3 linked regions of the Homo sapiens genome follow. The protein of the gene in region 1 purifies or fractionates together with the protein of each later gene. This does not show direct contact. Each region holds a gene or a part of one and is shown in the gene's direction. Other genes may lie near its edges. The genes, in order: NAPA, VPS45 and BNIP1.

Region 1 (3,652 bases):
AAAGTACCTGAAACGGACTTCAGCCCAGGTCTCGCCACCCCAAAGTCATTCTCTTTCTACCCCTTGTCTTTGCCCAGACAGGCATGTCACAAGAGGGTCCTGTGGCGATTTCAGAGCTGGGCAGTTAGCCTGTGACACTTTATTCTTTCACCGTTGTTAACTGGGGCTTGTGGAGAGATGGGAAAGCAGAGCTGGGCTCAGGCCCCGCCCTGCAGGAACTCATACTCTGCTTGGTCAGGCAAGGCCCACTGCAGAGTGGCGGGAGGCAGCTGGTGGTTTCCCGCTTCCAGGTGATACTGGTGGCGGTGCCTTCAGGATGCTGAGCCTCTGGCAGCTCCCAGCTCCAGTGCAGTCAGTGGACTAGCAGGGCTGGTGGCCCCCGGCTCCCTGTGCCAGGGTGGACCCTGCACCACAGGCAGCCTTAACTTTTTCTGACGTTCCTTCTGCCTGTTGGCTTGTTACTGGCAGGCTCGGTAGGGGGCTGGCTTAATTCATACTCCTTTGCCTAGAGGATGCTCCACGCAGCCCCAGCAGAGAGCAGCCTCTGCTCGTGAGATGAGGGAAGCCTAGGCAGTACAGGCTCCCTGGCTTCTTTAATCTAGAGGAGGGGTGGGGGCAGGCAGGGACCTTGTCCTCCCTCCTTATTTTCCCAAGGAGCCTTGGGCATGGGGAAGGAAGCCTTCCTGATCACTGAGTGAGAGGCAAGGGCAGGACTGGATCCCCAGGGCCCCAGTCCTCTTTCCAAGCCCTGCTGCTTCCTGGCAGGGTAAGCTTGGACAAGCCCTCCGCCCTCTCTGAGCCCCAGCTTCCTCGCCTGTAAAGCAAGGGCAGCACCCAAAGGGCTCTCGTGAGGAGCTGTGGGCTCCTTCCAGGGGAGTGCCTGGGAGGCAGGGAACGCCATGCGCCAGCCGTGATTAAGGCACATGGTCTCGAGAGCCGTGCAGGAGGTGGGCTTACAGGGAAGACACAGGCATGTGACGGGCCCTAGGACACCTTCCCCACTGAGGGTGCTGACTGGAGACTTGGGGCAGTGGGCCTTAAGTCTGAGGAGGAAACCGTAGGCCTGTGGCTGTGGCTTCCACAGAGGCAAGAGAGATAGAGTGAGTCCAGGACCCGAAATGGGGGCCTGACTTTGTCCACCCTGCCTCGTGAGGTCCTTCGGGAGCTGCAGGTGGTGGGTCTCAGGGCATGGTGTATTTCTGGCAGCCAGGAAGTGCCTGGTGGATGGAGGAAGGAAGGAGGGGGCTAAGACTCTGCCCTGCACAACCCCCTGGCCCAGGTCCCATCAGGCATCTGTGTATTCCTGGCAGTGCCCAGCCTTCCATATGGCAGTCCCTGAGGTTGGTGGCTGTGTTTGGGAGACCTGAGACTCCTTCCTCCGCCTTGGAGGGGGAGAGAGCAAAGCTGAGCGGGTAATTATAGACAGCCCTGCATCAGGCAGCCCAAACCAGTTCCCTCTATTCCCGGAGTGGCTCAGAGCCGTGGGATGGGAGGAGTGAAGCAGAGGCAGCTTGGGGGAGGTCAGTGGGGGAGGGACAGTCAGCTGTCACATGCGCTGCCACCCAGGCCCTCAGGAGAGGAGGCCCAGCTAGATTTTCCTTTCGTGTACTGTTGTTATCTCCTGGCACGTAATAAATGCTCGGATACCTGTTCCCCAGGTGAATAAATGTGTATGTGAATGGCTTCTTCAGGATCTTCCACTGGAACCTAGGCACGTCACTTTCCCCCTTTGGGGACTTCACTCCCATTTCTAAAAGAAGAGGATGGGACCCTGGAGATCTCCTGTCATCCCCTGGCCATGGTAATGGGCAAGACCGCGGGGTGCAGGGGAAGAAGGAGGCAAGCCTGGGGCCTGAGCAGGTGTTAATCCCTCTGGCCTTTCCACCCCACAGAATCATTGACCCCGTGCAGGGTTGGCTGTGCTTAGCCTGGGATCACAGAGTTTCAGCCCGGGCAGCTGGTAGGCTTTGTGTCCGTCCTGAAATAAACCCGGCTGGGCTGACTCTGCTCATTGTTGATTGCCCGCTGTGGGCCACTCAGTGACGTGGGTCATTTCTGCCCATCCAGGGTCTGTGCTTTTTCAGAGAGTGCATGGAGCTGGATAGGACTTAGTCACACTCAAAAAGAAGGGAAGGCTGAGCTGGGGGACCTGTGGGGTGGGCAGACCTGTGATTAAGGTCTGAAAATGTCCCTTTAAGAGAACATTCCAGAGAAGGTCCTTCTGAGGGTTTTTTGCAGCCAGGCCCCAAAGGACCCTTCAGGATTCTCAGCCAGAAGGTTTTGAAAGTTTCTTACCTCTCCAAGGCCAGGAATGGGTTCTAAAGAAGTCATTCCAGGCTGGGCACGGTGGCTCATGCCTGTAATCCCAGCACTTTGGGAGGCCGAGGCGAGTGGACCACTTGAGGTCAGGAGTTCGAGACCAGCCTGGCCAACGTGGTGAAACCCTGTCTCTACTAATAATACAAAAATTAGTAGGGTGTGATGGCACACATCTGTAATCCCAGCTACTCAGGAGGCTGAGGCAGGAGAATTGCTTGAACCCGGGAGTTGGAGGTTGCAGTAAGCTGAGATCGTGCCACTGTACTCCAGCCTGGGCGACAAGAGCGAAACTCCATCTCAAAAAAAAAAAAAAAAAAAAGAAGTCACTCCAAACAAGGCCCAAGGTGTGTTGGGCTGGCTGAGGTGAGGTGGGTGAGGGAAGACAGAGTGCAGCAGGGCGAGTGCGGGAAGAACACATTGCTCAGGGCCACTTCCCAGGGACAGCAGAGGGTGGGGGACAGCATCAGCACAGCCCCAGAAGGCAGAGGGTAGGCTTTTCATCTGGCAAGATGACAGAGAGGATAGGAATAAATAGATTATTTACCTGGTGTGATGTGGATTCAGGAGGCCAGGATCCCTGGCCCAACCAGCCCGCCCACCGTGGGGGCATTTATTTGCCTGCTGACATTGCCAGGCCTGGCCGCTGATCTGATCGCTGGTGGCTGCTTTCCAGGTAGTCGGTCTCAGTCAATTTTTCCTTCTCAAACTCACCTGATCAGCTGAATTACCTGGGCCCCCCAAACCCCAATTGTTAAAAATCTCATTTGCAGGCCCCATCCAGACCCTACTGAGCGAATCCCAAAGTGTGTGGCTGTGGGACTCTGGTTTGATGAAATGAGCACTTCATGTGGCTGAAAGGGATGGGCAGGTTGGACACACTGAATCCGCAGTGCAGAGGGAAGGAATGCTCACATCCCAGCTCCCAAAATTACCTTTGAGCCCCTCCACAGCTGGGGTTGGTGTGGACAAGTTCCCAGGTATAATGTTGGGCCAGTTGACACAGGGTGTGGGATGGGATGGTGAGGATGATTTGAATGGGAAAGTACCCACTCCTCCCTTTTCTCTTCCTTAAAAATAAACTAAACACTAGTTATGCCAGTGAAGAGAGGCCCTGAAATCCATTTGGTGGGACTCCAGAGTGTGTGGATTTTATTCTACTGATTATGTAGATATTGGGAGTTTGAGCAGTTACAGAGACTACAGACCTCGCGGGCTAAGCCTGGTTGTATTATTAAGGGCAGAAGAATGCAGTGGGACTTACGGGTTTGAGGTACTAATGAGGTCCCCCAAGTCAAGAGGAGGCTCATTATGTACATGTGGAGGTCAAGAAGCC
Region 2 (3,652 bases), on another chromosome or scaffold:
TTGGGTGATACGCCCGCTTCAGCCTCCCGAAGTACTGGGATTACAGGCATGAGCCACCACACCTCACCTGTTGTGTGTATTAATAGTTCATTCCTCCTTTGAGCTGGAACTGCAAAAAAAAAAGTTTTCTTAATTTAAAAATAGTTCATTTCTTTTTATTGCTGAGTAGTATTCCATGGTATGAATGTACCACAGTTTGTTTAACTATACACCATTGAAGGACATATGAGTTATTTCCAGTTTTGGCTATTACAAATAAAGCTGCTATAAATATCTGTGTACAGATTTTTATGTGAACATTAAGTCTTCATTCTCTGGGGTAAATAACCCCCAGGAGTGCAACTGCTGAGTCATATGGTAATTCCATGTGTGATCTGCCCACCTTGGCCTCCCAAAGTGATGGGATTACAGGTGTGAGCCACCGCACCGAACTTTTAAAGACATACAAAAGTAGAATAGTATCATAAGTTCCAATGTACCTATCAGCTGGTTTCAACAATTATTGAGCCTCACCCAATCTTGTTTTAGCTATACTGTCACCTACTTCTCCAGCAATATTATTTTAAAGCAAATCTAAGACATTATATAATTTTATCCATAAGTATTTCAGTAGGCATCTCTAAAAGATAAGGACTCATTTTTTTAAAAAACACATTTCCATTATTACATCTAGATTAAAAGTGAAAAATAATTATTTATTCTTTTTTTTTTTTTTTTTTTTTTTTGAGACACAGTCTCCCTCTGTCACCCAGACAGAGTGCAGTGGCATGATCTCGGCTCACTGTAACCTCAACTTCCCAGGTTCAAGTGATGTTGCCCAGGCTGGTCTTGAACTCTTAGTACCATTTTCAAATAACCATTCAGCGTTCAAATTTAAAATTGTCTTTTTTTTTTTTTTTTTTTACAGTTTTTTAAAATCAGGATCAAAGTAAGGTTCACACATTGCTGTTGGTTGATATGTTAAGTTTCTTAATCTTCTGTATAGGTCCTCCCACCCCTGCCCCTGCTGCCCCATGCAATTTATTTATTGAAGAAACTGTTAAGTTTTCCACAGACTGGATCTTGCTGATTGCATCCCCAGGGGGTAGTTTAACATGTTCCTTGAAGTTTAAAATATTCCTCTGTCTTCTAGTTCCTGTAAATTCATAGGTGAATACAGAGCCTTAATTAGGTTAAGATTTGATTTCTTCTTGGCAAGAATACTTTATAGGTGGTATTGTGTGCTTTCATTGGCTGCTTATTCTTTTGATATTAGTAGCTGCTGATGCTCAATGCCTGGGTCCATTCAATTGATTCATTGGGGGTTAGAAAAAATGATGATATTCTAATTCTGTCATTAACATTTGTTAGTTATTGTTGAGCTGGAATGTTTTCACAAAGAAAAATTTTCCCTCATCTATTTGGTTACCTGGTAGTACAGTTTATATATAAAAGACAGCATGAAAGTTTACTTCTTTCTCCTTATTTTCAATAAAATGACTTACTTCCCTAGTATTCTCATTCTCCAATTCCTCCGATGGAGTCTTCCTCTATCGCCCAGGCTGGAGTGCAGTGGCCTGATCTGGGCTCACTGCAAGCTCTGCCTCCTGGGTTCATGCCATTCTCCTGTCTCAGCCTCCCGAGTAGCTGGGACTACAGGCGTCCGCCACCACGCCCAGCTAATTTTTTTTTGTATTTTTAGTAGAGACGGGGTTTCACCGTGTTAGCCAGGATGGTCTCGATCTCCTGACCTCATGATCCACCTGCCTCAGCCTCCCAAAGTGCTGGGATTACAGGTGTGAGCCACCGCGCCTGGCCAGTCCTTTTAAAATATATATATATATATATATAAAATTATGAATTTGTGGATTAAATATATTTTTGCTACCCATTCCAATTTGAAGGTCACTTATTCATTAGGCTTTAACTATCAGGCCCTTTTACATATATTGCAGCAGAAATTATCTCCTTTGAGTCAACCCCAACTCATGTGTTTCAGATTTCAGTAATGTGATCAGCAAGAGTGACGTGAAGTCATTGGCTGAAGCTGATGAACAGGAAGTTGTGGCTGAGGTTCAGGTAAACATATTGGTCCTGTAACACATCTCGTATGTTGGCCCTTTTTAAATATTTGAGTCTAAAAATAAAAAATAAGGAAAGGTCTGTCTCAAAAGAAGTTTTATTATGAATACTTGAATATGTTTATCACATAAATGAGGAATATTGTTTTCAGAGGCAGCAAATAAACTAGTTTTGAATTTTTCAGAAGGATGTGATAGGTGATAAATGAATAAAAAGAATACCTGTTTTAAATTATATTCTCTCTCATGACAACACATTGGACAGCAAAGTTCTTTTTTATCTGAGTAGAACATTGTATCTCCTATTAGCAGTATTTTATTTTTACTAATTGATAAGTATGCATAGAGGTCTCCAGAAATATAATGTGTATAACCTTACAACCTTTATTTGTTAGATTTATTATTATTGCTACTGTTTTGTAATTATTTTAATTCTCCCACGTTGACTGTTGTTACCCAATTATTAATTGAACAATTTAGTATCTCTTTACACCTGTATTTCACAAAGTTTGGCTATATCATATTATATCACTTATGAAAATATTACTGCTTGATACAATTGAAGTTTATGGAATGACTATTCTTGGTGCTTTATTTGCAGGAATTTTATGGTGATTACATTGCTGTGAACCCACATTTGTTTTCCCTCAATATTTTGGGTTGCTGCCAGGTATGGAAGGAAAGGTTTAATTTATCAGTCGAGAGTTAATTCAGCAAATAATTAGACTTGTAAGAGAAAATTCAAATATTTTCTCTGAATATATGTTTTTAACAAAAAGGGTCGAAATTGGGATCCAGCCCAGCTATCTAGAACAACTCAAGGGCTTACAGCTCTCCTTTTATCTCTGAAGAAGTGTCCCATGATTCGTTATCAGCTCTCATCAGAGGCAGCAAAGAGACTTGCAGAGTGCGTTAAGGTATGGCATTACCTATTCCTGGTTCCAAAACATAAAGGCCATTCATTTCTCTATCATATTTCAGAAACTAAAGGAATAGTTTATTTACAACCAAGGAGATGATTGTATGTTAGGTTTCCGCGAAAAGAGGTAGGTATATGTAATTTAAAACAAAAAGCAACAATTAGAGCTAAGATTCTTAGGTTTAACCCAAGAAACATTCACAAGCTATTTAACTTTTTTTGGTCCAGTTAAACCACTTATAAAATAGGGTTTCATATCCTAACCTCTTAAATAGTATGCTACTAAACTTTGTGAGACTTTTGAATCCTTCATATGGAAGATCTATGTGGGTGCAAAGAACTATTGTTAAATGTAGTGTTTATTAATTTCCTATTTATATCATTTCTATATGTAACTAGATGGTTGCACAAACCATCTTTCTCTCTCACCCACAGCAAGTGATAACTAAAGAATATGAACTGTTTGAATTCCGTCGGACAGAGGTTCCTCCATTGCTCCTTATTTTAGATCGCTGTGATGATGCCATCACCCCATTGCTAAACCAGGTACAAAACCCTTTCTTGGCATAATAGAAGGATAATTTTAAGTGATATTCATCAAAATACAGATAGGGAAGTAAAAACATGGTCCATTTATTTGCCTCCTTATTTTTAGCTATTCTTGGTTTTGCTT
Region 3 (3,652 bases), on another chromosome or scaffold:
TGGGCGACAGAGCGAGACTCTGTCTCAAAAAAAAAAACAAGAAACTTTTGCATGCAGAACACTGCCAGCTGTGTGAACGAGTGAATGGCAGGAACACCATTATCCTTGGAATTTTTGAAATCCTGGGGCCACTTCAAATACTTTCTCTTCTCTGCCATTCTTTCTACCCTATTCATTCATTCACTACCTCAATCCATCACACTCCTGGGTTTTTTTTTATGCTGTTACTTTGCTCAGCATCTTCCTTATTTCAATAGTCACCAGTCACATCATATACACATTTAGTATGCCTGAATTCAAGTATGGTATATGTGCTGTCTCAAAAAACACTAGAGGGTGACAAGTAGCAGTTATGTTTGTTTGTTTTATTTATTTCACATTTTATTCTTATTACATTGGGCTGGGCAAAGAGTTGTGCACCACTGTATAGATCATGTTATTCTGTTGCTTTCATTTTTAAAAATGAAAATGAGGCCAGTAGTTTGAGAACAGCCTGGCCAACATGGCAAAACCCTGTCTCTGATAAATGCAAAAATTAGCTGGGCATGGTGGCACACACCTGTAATCTCAGCTACTTAGGAGGCTGAGGCAGGAGAATCGCTTGAACCCAGGAGGTGCAGGTTGCAGTGAGCAGAGATCGTGCCACTGCACTCTAGCCTTGGTGACAGAGCAAGACTCTGTGTCAAAAAAAAAAAAAAAAAAAAAATATATATATATATATATATATATATATATATATATATATATATATATATATATTTTAATAGAGATGGATTTTTTGCTCTATGTTGCTTGAGCTGGTCTTAAACTCCTGGGCTCAAGCAATCCTCCTGCCTCAGCCTCTGAAAGTGCTGGGGTTACAGGCATGAGCCCAGACTATTGTGTTGCTTTCAGACAGAATTGGGATTCAGCTTCTAATTGTTTCCAAGTTCAGAATCTAGATCAGAATCAGAGGATGAAGACCACTTGTGGGTCTGGGGGCTGCTGAGAGGAAACACGTATGGAGCTGACTATGGAGGGGTCATGTTTCAAGGCTGCCATCTGGGCATCCAAGGATCCTGCATGCAGCTCATGGGTAGAGGGGCCCACAGCAGCCCCTCAAAGTGAATAGGGATGGCACAGGCCCAGGGCTGGAACTCAGGAGTTGGAAGGATGACTGCATCTGCACACTTAAAAAGATGCTGTCCATCTGTATCCTGGAATCCTGTGTAGGCCCTCTCCCTGAGGACAGGAACAGGGTTGGCTCCTTGGCCTCTGTTTAGCCTCATGAGTAGTTCAGTAAAAGTCCTGCAAACTTGTCATTATCTGGAGACATTCCTGCCGGCTCCTCTTCATGCCCCTCTACTTGAAGCACTAGGCAGTTGCTTTATATTGTTCATGATTCTTCTTCAGTTATTCAAATTTGAGATAATTGCATTCTTTTAGGGAACTCTGGATCTCCTGGTCACTCCAAGGGTTGATTACTGTTCTGATGGTTTTTCTGGTTTCTTGGTTTCTTCTTCCTTCTTTATTTCCTGAGGGTTTCTAGTAATTTCAGTCTGATGTCTTACGTTCTCCATTTTTATTCCTGAGTTTTCTCCTGGAATTCTTCTCACTGCAGCCACAGGACCTAATGTTGGGTTGGCAGAGAACTAGCACTTACTCTGCCCTAGTGGGACCTAGGAGAGTCAGGAGGTACCTGAGTGTGGAAACATGCCTGCTCCTCTAGACTTCTGGAGGTCTCTTAGAAGTAGCAGTTTGAATAGTGGAGATGTTTCCCCTGCTGTACCTTCAGTGAGGGTGAGGTGGGTGTCATGGATCTGCCCATCTGTATTAGTCTGTTTTCATGCAGCTGATAAAGACATACGTGAGACTGGGAAGAAAAAGAAGTTTAATGGACTTCTGACATGGCTGGGGAGGCCTCACAATCATGGCAGAAGGCAAAGAGGAGCAAGTCACGTCTTATATGGATGGCAGCAGGCAAAGAGAGAGCTTGTGCAGGGAAACTCCTGTTTTTAAAACCATCAGATCTCATGAGACTCATTCACTATCATGAGAAAAGTGCAGGAAAGACCCACCTCTGTAATTCAATCATCTCCCACCAGGTACCTCCCATGACATATTGTGAGAGTTACAATTCAAGATGAGATTTGGGTGGGGACACAGCCAAACCATATCACCATCCCTGGATGGGTCTTGTGGCACCTGGTCTTGTGGTATTGGGGTTTTGTATTAGGCCTTTCTTGCATTGCTGTAAAGAAATACCTGAGGCTGGGTAATTTATTTAAAAAAATGGGTTTAATTGGCTTAAGGTTCTGCAGGCTGTATGGGAAGCATAGCAGTATCTGCTTCTGGGGAGGCTTCAGGAAGCTTCCAGTCATGGCAGAAGGCAAAGGGAGCAGGCATGTCACATGACAAAAGCAGGAGCAAGAGAGAGATTGAGTGAGAGCTCACTTACCACTAAGGGGATGACTTATGCCATTCATTAGGGATCCACCCCCATGATCCAAACACCTCCCACCAGGCCCCACCTCCAACACTGGGGATTACCATTCAACATGAGATTTGGGCAGGGACAAATATTCAGACTATATCAGGTCTAAAGACTTGAGCTTTTTTGGCCAGCACAGTGGCTCACGCCTGTAATCCCAGCACTTTGGGAGGCCAAGGCGAGTGGATCGCCTGAGGCCAGGAGTTCAAGACCAGCCTAGTCAACATGGTCAACCTCCATCTCTACTAAAAGTATAAAAATTAGCTGGGTATGGTGACCCGTGCCTGTAATCCCAGCTGTTTGGGTGGCTGAGGCATGAGAATTGCTTGAACCTGGGAGTTGGAGGTTGCATTGAGCCAAGATTGTGCCACTGCACTCCAGCCTGGGTGACGGAGCAAGACCCTGTCTCAAAAAAAAAAAAAAAAAAGACTTGTGCTTTTCATATAACATGGCCCCCAAAGCCCACCAGCAACTCTGTTGTTGCTTAACAGAGGAAGACAGTCTGTTCTAAAGCTGGTAGAAAAGCTGGCCAGTTGGACCCCTGAGAAACAGTATGTCTGTGTCCTGTGTTTGCCTACCTCAGAGATTTTCAAGGGCAATTTTGAAAATGTGTAATTTTTGCTATTGGAGTTAACTATATGATTTTCAGCAGCGTCACCATACCTAGCTGATCTCTTCCTGCCTTCATCTCCAGTACTGATTTAATCATCTTAATTTTTTATTTTTGAAAAGATGTTCCTTTTACATGTTTTATGTATGTGTCTGTCTATAAGTATCAACATTCAGTGAAAAGTCTCAGTTATGCCCCAGTTTTGTTTTTTGTTCCACTCTTCCAAACAGGTAACCACTTTTGTTACTGATATGTCATTCCAGAGTTTCTCTACTCAAATATTTAAAAAGACAAATTTCTTTTTTTTTAAAATTTCTTCCTTGTTTCTCATCTAAAAAGTAGCATACTAACACACAGCTTTTAAAAACTTTATACTTTTGTTTTTTTGTTTTTTTTTAAGACGGAGTCTGGCTCTGTTTCCCAGGCTGGAGTGCAGGTGTGATCTCTGCTCACTGCAACCTCCACCTCCTGGGTTCAAGCGATTCTCCTGCCTCAGCCTCCCAAGTAGCTGGGATTACAGGTGTGTGCCACCACACACAGCTAATTTTTCGTATTTTTAGTACAGACGGAGT

What was found.
Region 2: the proteins of NAPA (region 1) and VPS45 purify together in Homo sapiens (affinity purification with mass spectrometry; 3 studies listed by BioGRID and IntAct, with this or other methods). This does not show direct contact.
Region 3: the proteins of NAPA (region 1) and BNIP1 purify together in Homo sapiens (affinity purification with mass spectrometry; 3 studies listed by BioGRID and IntAct, with this or other methods). This does not show direct contact.

What each region holds. Positions count from the first base shown.
Region 1 is NC_000019.10:47,504,981-47,508,632, reverse strand, and holds part of NAPA (alpha-soluble NSF attachment protein), read left to right. Parts: intron 1-3,652. UniProt on the Homo sapiens protein: Required for vesicular transport between the endoplasmic reticulum and the Golgi apparatus. Together with GNA12 promotes CDH5 localization to plasma membrane.
Region 2 is NC_000001.11:150,074,255-150,077,906, forward strand, and holds part of VPS45 (vacuolar protein sorting-associated protein 45), read left to right. Parts: intron 1-1,978; coding exon 1,979-2,058; intron 2,059-2,661; coding exon 2,662-2,730; intron 2,731-2,839; coding exon 2,840-2,977; intron 2,978-3,414; coding exon 3,415-3,525; intron 3,526-3,652. UniProt on the Homo sapiens protein: May play a role in vesicle-mediated protein trafficking from the Golgi stack through the trans-Golgi network.
Region 3 is NC_000005.10:173,147,379-173,151,030, forward strand, and holds part of BNIP1 (vesicle transport protein SEC20), read left to right. Parts: intron 1-3,652. UniProt on the Homo sapiens protein: As part of a SNARE complex may be involved in endoplasmic reticulum membranes fusion and be required for the maintenance of endoplasmic reticulum organization. Also plays a role in apoptosis.